Linked DNA regions of Homo sapiens: region 2 is linked to region 1. Evidence: fine-mapped expression QTL. A gene starts in region 1. The other region holds a variant in brackets. All regions are shown on one strand. Distances are between the middles of the regions.

Region 1 (4,258 bases):
ATATAGAAAATCCTAAGGAATCCACAAAAACAAGGTGATGAACCTTATGACACCCTGTAGAAATCCAGATTTCGTAGATTAGAAATCCAATGGCTTTGTTTAAACTGTCTCTTCCTCTGTTTTTACATTTTTTCCTCCACACTTGACAAAAACAAACCCAACTCTTTTTAAACCAACTTCCCTACCTCTTTCCTGCACTCATCCCTTCCTAAAGGTTTGCTCCTATAATTATTATCGTTGGAACTGCCCAACAAGACCCTCGTTTTCTATTTATCTGGATCTCCAGGCTCATTTCTTTCTTTGTATCCTATTTTCTATATCATGCTCAGAATTTTAAAGTTGCTTCCAGGCTGGGCGCGGTGGCTCATGTCTGTAACGCCAGCATTTCGGGAGGAGGGATTGCTTGAGTCCAGGAGTTTGAGACCGGACGGGCCAACATGGCGAAACCCTGTATCCACTAAAAATACAAAAATTAGCCAGGTGTAGTGGCGCGTGCCTATTGTCCCAGCTACTCGGGAGGCTGAGGTGGGAGGATCACCTGATCCTGGGAAGTCAAGGCTGCAATCAGCCAGATCACACCACTGCACTCCAGCCTGGGTGACAGAGTGAAATTCTGTCAAAGAAAGAAAAGAAAGAGAAAGAAAAGGAAGAAAGGAAGGAAGGAAGCGTATCTCCATTTTCATCCAAACAGGTATTTTTCTCTGCTACTACGTACCTCCTCAGAGCCCATCCCCCCTACTGGTCTGAGGCTTTTTTTTAAACAACTTTCTGGACATAGCCCCTCTTAAGACTAACAACCTATAGCCAGGCGTGGTGGCTCACGCTTGTAATCCCAGGATTTTGGGAGGCCGAGGCAGGTGGATCACCTGAGGTCGGGAGTACCAGACCAGCCTGACCAATATGGAGAAACCCCATCTCTGCTAAAAACACAAAATTAGGCTGGGCATGGCGGCGCATGCCTGTAATCCCAGCAACTCGGGAGGCTGAGGCAGGAGAACTGCTTGAACCCAGGAGGCGGAAGTTGTGGTGAGCGGAGATTGCGCCATTGTACTCCAGCCTGGGCAACAAGAGCGAAACTCTGTCTCAAAAAAACAAAACAAAACAAAAAGAGTAGCAACCTAGGCCGGGCGCAGTGGCTCACGCCTGTAATCCCAGCACTTTGGGAGGCTGAGGCGGGTGGATCACCTGAGGTCAGGAGTTCGAGACCAGCCTGGCCAACATGGTGAAACCCCGTCTCTACTAAAAATACAAAAATTAGCCGGGCGTGGTGGTGGGCGCCTGTAATCCCAGCTACTCGGAAGGCTGAGGCAGGAGAATTGCTTAAACGCAGGAGGCGGAGGTTGTAGTGAGTGGAGATCGAGCCACTGCACTCCAGCCTGGGCGATAGAGCGAGACTCCGTCTCAAAAAAACAAACAAACAAATAAACAAAAAGACTAGCAACCTCCTCTCCAGCAATGCCAACCCCAGTCCAGGCCCCCATCCGCCCAGGATCTCGATCAAAAAACATTAATCTGTGGCCTTTCTTTGCCATTTCCAACTCTGCCACCTCCATCGAACGACAAGGTCCCCTTCTTCCTTTCCATTCCCGTCAGCTTCATTTCCCTAATCTCCGTACAAATCCCTAGCCTGACTCCCTTTCCTTTCCATCCTCACCAGACGCCCGCATGCCGGACCTCAAAAGCGCAAACGCTAAAAACCGGTTGAGTTGACGCACGGAGAGAAGGGGTGTGTGGGTGGGTGGGTGTGTGTTAGTGTGCGTGCTTGCTTGTGTGTGGAAGAAACCAACAGGGTTCACGCTGGTGCCCATTTCTGGAAATGCCAATCGCGCCCGACTGCGGGAGCCAGGATCAGGTCCCCAGGGCGCCCTTGCAGACAGCACCCTGAGCGAAGGAGCTCAGAAGGCAGTCCGGCTTCACCCAGACCCCCAATCCCACAGAAGCGCCGTCCCCCAGCGGCACAGCACCCCCTCCCCGGCGCGGTGGTAGGGCCCGACGTGACGTCACCCATTGTTTACAAATCAACCCGAGCCGGCAGGATTCCGGCTCCCGCGGCTGCAGGCGCGCGGCTAGAGTGCCTGGCGGGCTCCGGCTTCCGCGTCCGCCCCGGCCCCGGTCCAGACTTAGTCTTCAGCTCCGCGCCCGCTCCGCCGCGGCCCACCGCGCCCGCCGGCAGCCGAGCCCCCAGCGACGCCCGCACAGCTCCGGGTGCCCAGACAGGGGGCCATGCCGTGCCGGAGGGAGGAGGAAGAGGAAGCCGGCGAGGAGGCGGAGGGGGAGGAAGAGGAGGAGGACAGCTTCCTCCTACTGCAGCAGTCAGTGGCGCTGGGCAGCTCGGGCGAGGTGGACCGGCTGGTGGCCCAGATCGGCGAGACGCTGCAGCTGGACGCGGCGCAGCACAGCCCGGCCTCGCCGTGCGGGCCCCCGGGGGCGCCGCTGCGGGCCCCGGGGCCCCTGGCTGCGGCGGTGCCGGCGGACAAGGCCAGGTCCCCGGCGGTGCCGCTGCTGCTGCCGCCCGCGTTGGCGGAGACTGTGGGCCCGGCGCCCCCTGGGGTCCTGCGCTGCGCCCTGGGGGACCGCGGCCGCGTGCGGGGCCGCGCTGCGCCCTACTGCGTGGCCGAGCTCGCCACAGGCCCCAGCGCGCTGTCCCCACTGCCCCCTCAGGCCGACCTTGATGGGCCTCCGGGAGCTGGCAAGCAGGGCATCCCGCAGCCGCTGTCGGGTCCGTGCCGGCGAGGATGGCTCCGGGGCGCCGCCGCCTCCCGCCGCCTGCAGCAGCGACGCGGGTCCCAACCAGAAACCCGCACAGGCGACGACGACCCGCACCGGCTTCTGCAGCAGCTAGTGCTCTCTGGAAACCTCATCAAGGAGGCCGTGCGAAGGCTTCATTCGCGACGGCTGCAGTTACGTGCAAAGCTTCCCCAACGCCCGCTCCTGGGACCTCTGTCGGCCCCGGTGCATGAACCCCCTTCGCCTCGCAGCCCTCGCGCGGCCTGCAGTGACCCTGGCGCCTCCGGGAGGGCGCAGCTCAGAACTGGCGACGGCGTTCTTGTGCCTGGCAGCTAACACGCCCGGGGTGGCCACAGCGCCAGCCTCAGACTGGAGGGCAAGGGGTTCCCTTGAGGGCTGCAGTTCTACTCAGGCTGGTGGAGAACTCTGGCTTTTGGAAGCGAGAGTAAAAAGCTAATGACGAGGAACCGAAAAATCGCGAGTGTTTCGCGGGTAACTGGGGTTGAGGGCCAAAATATTTGGAATGAAGGACTTTGGCCCTATTTAAGGCAGATTTTACAGAGCGCACCTCAAACGTACAAGTCAGTAGGACTCCTTATTTGGCGTGACCCGACCTGGCCGCGGAGCCTGCATTTCCTCGCAGCCTCTCAGTGCCCTCCAGCCCCGCGACCATGTGGCCACAATCCACGCTTCTCCGGATCGCGGTGCGCCGGAACCACGGAGGATGATGCCAGTTACTTGCTTTACCTTTTCAGGGCTGGCTCCTGATCCACTTTGGGGGAGGAGAACATGAGTAGATAATTTCAGGGTGCAGCCCAATCTGCCAGACTTAAAAAAACCATCTTGTGTCTTTGGAGGTGCTGCTTAATACCAAACATGCGGTGCCATGAAGGGACCCTTTGGGGGTTGAATAGGAGTTAACCCCTGCGCTCTCTTTGCAACTGTCTCTCTTCTCAGAGTGGTGGGGGAAGGCTGTACGACACGGGTGGGGAAAGGAGGTGGGGGCGGGGAGTATTGAATGGTGGTGGAAGGGTAGAGAGGCGCGGAGTGAACCCCACGCCCTGTCTAAAGTGTATTTTCAGAGCCGGCCCGCCTCTCCTCGGTTCAAGGTCACTGTTTCCTGGGCACGCACTGGGTTGCGGGACAGAGTAGCCAGGTTCTGCCGGTGCTCGGAGAAGAGCGCAGTGTTTTGCAAGTGCTGGAGTCTCCTGAGGACACGCGCGTCGCCGCCACCGCGGGTGTGGGAAAGCGCGGACGTGCTGGGCGGCTGTGCTTCGGTAGGCGACCACCGCCCCTGGCCGCGCTCCGGGCTTTCACGGAAACTCCCGAGACCGGGCCCTGGGTTCCTCCTCTCCTACTCGGCTCTGCAGTCCTACTCAAGCGGGTGGCTCTGGGATCCTGGGGGCCTGGGTTGGGGGCTAGGGAGACGCCATGTGATGGACACTCCAGGGACACACAGCCTAGCACAGCAGCTTATAATGGGCTCTCCGGGGCCATTTGCAATAACAGCTGCAATTCCCTGGATAGACGA
Region 2 (4,258 bases), 86 kb before region 1:
TTCTGCCTTTTGGCTTTTGTGAATAATGCTGCTATGAATACGGGTGTACAAATATTGCCTCAAGACCCTGCTTTCAATTCTTTTGGTTATATACCGGGAGTAGCATTGCTGGATCACAAGGTCATTCTATTTAAATTTTTTAGGAACTGCCATACTGTTTTCCACAGTGGCTCCTCCATTTTACATCCCTATCAATAATGCATAGGGGTTCCAAATTCTCCACATCCTCATCAACATTTGTTATTTTCCGTTGTTTTTTTTTTTTTTTTTTTAATAATAGTCATCCTAGTGGGTGTGAAGTGGTATCTAATTGTGGTTTTGATTTACATTTCCCTAATGATTAGTGATGTTGAACATCTTTTCATGTGTTTCTTGGCCATCTGTACATCTTCTCTGGAGAAATTTCTATTTAAGTCCTTTGCTCACTATTTTTTTTTTTTTTTTTTTTTTTTTTTGAGACAGAGTCTCGCTCTGTCACCCAGGCTGGAGTACAGTGGCTCAATCTCGGCTCACTGCAACCTCTGCCTCCTGGGTTCAAACGATTCTCCTGCCTCAGCCTCCTGAGTAGCTGGGACTACAGGCACATGCCAACATGCCCGGCTAATTTTTTGTATTTTTAATAGAGATGGAGTTTCACCGTGTTAGCCAGAATGGTCTTAATCTCCTGACCTCGTGATCCGCCCACCTCAGCCTCCCAAAGTACTGGGATTACAGGCGTGAGCCACTGTGCGCGGCCTCTGCCCACTCTTTAATGAGGTTGTTTTTGCTGTGTTGAGTTATAGGAGTTCTTTAGATTATTATGGATATTAATCCCTAATCATAAATATGATTTGCAAATATTTTCTCCCAATCCAGGGTTGCCTTTTCACTCTGTAGATGGCAAAGGAAATTTTGATGTCAAGTAAGCCTAATGTCCTAGAAGCTACTGGCCCCAGGAGGTCAGGATTGAGAGTGAATTCTAGATATCTATAAATTATAACTAGGACCAAAATTACAGTAAGATGAATTTGTAAATGCTAACAGCTGTACCTCAAAAAAAAAAAATTACAGACACAGTGGCTCACATCTGTAATCCCAGCACTTCAGGGGGCCAAAGCAGGAGGATCACTTGAGCCCAGAAATTCAAGACCAGCAACACAGGCTGGGCATGGTGGCTCACGCCTATAATCTCAGCACTTTGGGAGGCCGAAGCGGGCAGATTACTTGAGGCCAGGAGTTCAAGACCAGGCTGGCCAACATGGTGAAACCCCATCTCTACTAAAAATACAAAAAATTAGCCGGGCATGGTGGTGGGCGCCTGTAATCCCAGCTACTAGGGAGGCTGAGGTGGAAGAATCACTTGAACCCTGGAGATGGAGGTTGCAGTGAGCTGAGATCACGCCACTGCACTCCAGCCTGAGGCATAGAGCGAGACTGTCTCAAAAAAAAAAGACCAGCAACACAGCAAGACCCCATCTCTACAAACATTTAAAAATCAGCCAGGTATGATGGCATGCACTTGTGGTCCCAGCTACTTGGGAGGCTGAAGTAGGAGGATCGCTGAGCGCCCAGGAGATCAAGGCTGCAATAAGCCATGATGGTGCCACTTGTACTTCAGCCTGAGCAGCAGAGCAAGACCCTGTCTCAAAAATAAATAAATAAATAAATATTACAAGTTATTTATTTTTAGGGCAAAAATTTTAAATTTTAAGCAAAGAGCTCCCTGTGTTGCTGGAATTATATATCTTAATAACAAAGTAATTTTTAAAAGAAAAGCAGGGCAAAACACCAAAAATAAAAACAAAAGGAAGCCATCCTCAGCAAACTAACACAAGAACAGAAAACCAAACACCACATGTTCTCACTTGTGAGTAGGAGCTGGCCGGGTGCAGTGGCTCATGCCTATAATCCCAGTACTTTGGAAGGCCAAGGCGGGTGGATCACTTGAGGTCACGAGTTCGAGACCAGCCTGGCCAACATGGTGAAACCTCGTCTCTACTAAAACTACAAAAATGAGCCAGGCATGGTGGCGCACGCCTGTAGTCCCAGCTACTTGGGAGGCTGAGGCAGGAAAATGGCTTGAAACCAGGAGGCGGAGGCTGCAGTGAGCTGAGATCAAGCCACTGCACTCCAGCCTGGGTGACAGAGAGAGACTCCATCTAAAAAAAAAAAGTGGGAGCTAAACAATGAGAACACATGGACACAGGGAGGGGAACAACACACACTGGGGCCTGTTGGGGGGTGGAGTGGGGGGAAGGAGAGTATTAAGAAAAGTAGCTGGCCAGACGCAATGGCTTATGCCTGTAATCCCAGCAATTTGGGAGGCTGAGGCGGGTGAATCACCTGAGGTCAGGAGTTCCAGACCAGCCTGGCCGACATGGTGAAACCCCCTCTCTACTAAAAAGGCAAAAATTAGCTGGGCATGGTGGCAGGCACTTGTAATCCTACCTACTTGGGAAGCTGAGGCAGGAGAATCGCTTGAACCCAAGAGGGGGAGGTTGCAGTGAGCCGAGACCATGTTATTGCACTCCAGCCTGGGCGACAACAGCGAGACTCTGTCTCAAAAAAAAATTAAAAAAATAAAAATAGCTAACGCATGCTGGGCTTCATACCTAGGTGATGGGTTTACAGGTGCAGCAAACCACCATGGCACACATTTACCTATATAACAAACCTGCACATCCTGCACATGTACCCAGAAATAAAAAT[TAAA/T]AAAAAAAAAAAAAAAAAAAGATACTCAGTGCTTTTGGGGCAGCAATCTCTTCCAAAAAAGAAAAATAGAAAAGAAAAGCAGTGTATATAGCACTCATCTCTCTCCAAGTTAACCAAAACCTTGCCTTAGTTCATGCATGGAAATTTGAACCCCATGATCAAGTTATCTACTGCCACCTGATGGCAATATTCCTTCACTACATGTTCCGATAGTTTGAAGACTTATAAATTTAATCTGCAAACATGGTGATAGCAGCAATAACATAGAAGCATATTTTGTATTTGTTTTAAAAACAAGATTTTTACTGAATTTGATACATGGAAGAAAGTACAACAACTGTTAAAAATATTAAGCTCACAAAAATTTGGGGTATCAAAACTCACTAGCCTATTGGAAAATCCAGTTTTCTAACAGTTTCCCTAGTCTGTCTCAACTTCCTCACTTCTCCACAGGTTTACCAAATTGCATAAAGAAGTGTGTAACTCGAAGCTGATCAGAAAACAAAAGGGCCTCTTACACTGCTCAGGAATGCAGACTCTGTCCTTAGCCCCTTAGCCCCAGAAGAAAAGGAAGGACCCTTACTTCTACTCCTCACGTCACAGAGCCCCTTCTCTGATGTGCAACACAGCAAAGCACTTTGCAATATAAAAGCTTTTCAACATTTTGTCTTTACCCCCTTATAAACTAGCCCTTTATAGGGTCCCCAAAAAACAGAAGAAAACTTTTTATGCATAAGAAAAATCACATTGTTACATTTCCTAAAAATCAATGCTGAAAACGACAGCCCAGCATACCTACCTTAATAAGCCCACTGAAGGAGCGCGAACGAGCCCTCTTTTGTACCTGGGAAGTAGAAGGTTCTCGCCCTGGTGTCTGGGTCAATGATTGCTTATTAAACTAAAAGAAAACATGGAGAACATTTTATAAATACTTTCCCATCAAGACACGGCATTCTGTGACAACTAATAGCTAAGTGTAAATAAAAGTCCAGGAAAAACTGAGTCTGCGCATAGATGGATTAGGAGGTCAAAAAGCCAATCACAAAGTCAGAAATGATGATGCCAAAAGAAGTGGATTCAAGTGCTCTGAGGGGCTCTGCACGCCACATTCCTTGAATGTGGAATTACTGTCCCCATTCTACAGACAAAAAAACTGAGACTTGGAGAGCTTATGAAATTTATCCACGATCCCCAGCTGCTAACCAAGACTTTTTTGCAACAAAGCATCTTGGAACCACACAGTTACTGGCACAATCTAAAACAGTCCCTAATTTAACATAAATTGCATACAGAATTTTTTTAAGTTACTAAAACTCTTTAAATGGACATCTATCATGACTGCCTGACAACAATACCATCAGAGGAAATACATCAGAATGCAGACTTGTCAATGCTATCAACATCAGCTCTCTGGAGGTATCTAAAGTGGAAAACGAGAAGACCCAATGCATTGAATAATCTTATTCAATGCTTTGATTAGCCATTCATTTCCCACTTAAAAAGTAATAATAATATAGCATTTAACTCTTCTACTCTTCTGCCTTTTCAGATTGTTGATGATGTTGCT

Alleles and levels. Positions count from the first base shown, and alleles are read on the strand shown. Sizes are in standard deviations (SD) of each study's normalised expression.
For the expression in B cells of the gene that starts at base 2,041 in region 1, T is the low allele of the variant in region 2 and TAAA is the other (moderate effect, 0.52 SD a copy in Schmiedel 2018).

The links. PIP is the estimated chance that this variant, and not a neighbour inherited with it, causes the effect. A credible set is the group of variants that fine-mapping cannot tell apart.
Region 2: its variant is the best candidate, but not a certain one, in a credible set for the expression of FRAT1 in B cells (Schmiedel 2018, PIP 0.60).

The regions. Positions count from the first base shown.
Region 1 is chr10:97,317,231-97,321,488 of GRCh38, forward strand. FRAT1 (FRAT regulator of Wnt signaling pathway 1) reads left to right here and starts at 2,041. Exons shown (of 1, transcript NM_005479.4): 1 at 2,041-4,258. The coding sequence starts at 2,224. The coding sequence ends at 3,063. RefSeq lists enhancers at 1,355-2,144, 1,882-2,176, 3,266-3,425 and silencers at 2,016-2,325, 2,826-2,925.
Region 2 is chr10:97,231,727-97,235,984 of GRCh38, forward strand. ARHGAP19 (Rho GTPase activating protein 19) reads right to left here. Exons shown (of 12, transcript NM_032900.6): 9 at 3,491-3,589. It overlaps ARHGAP19-SLIT1 (ARHGAP19-SLIT1 readthrough (NMD candidate)), which reads right to left. Exons shown (of 15, transcript NR_037909.1): 9 at 3,491-3,589. Among named protein-coding and RNA genes, the nearest start is that of SLIT1, 48 kb to the left of the region's middle. The variant TAAA/T (reference allele first, on the strand shown) is at 2,689.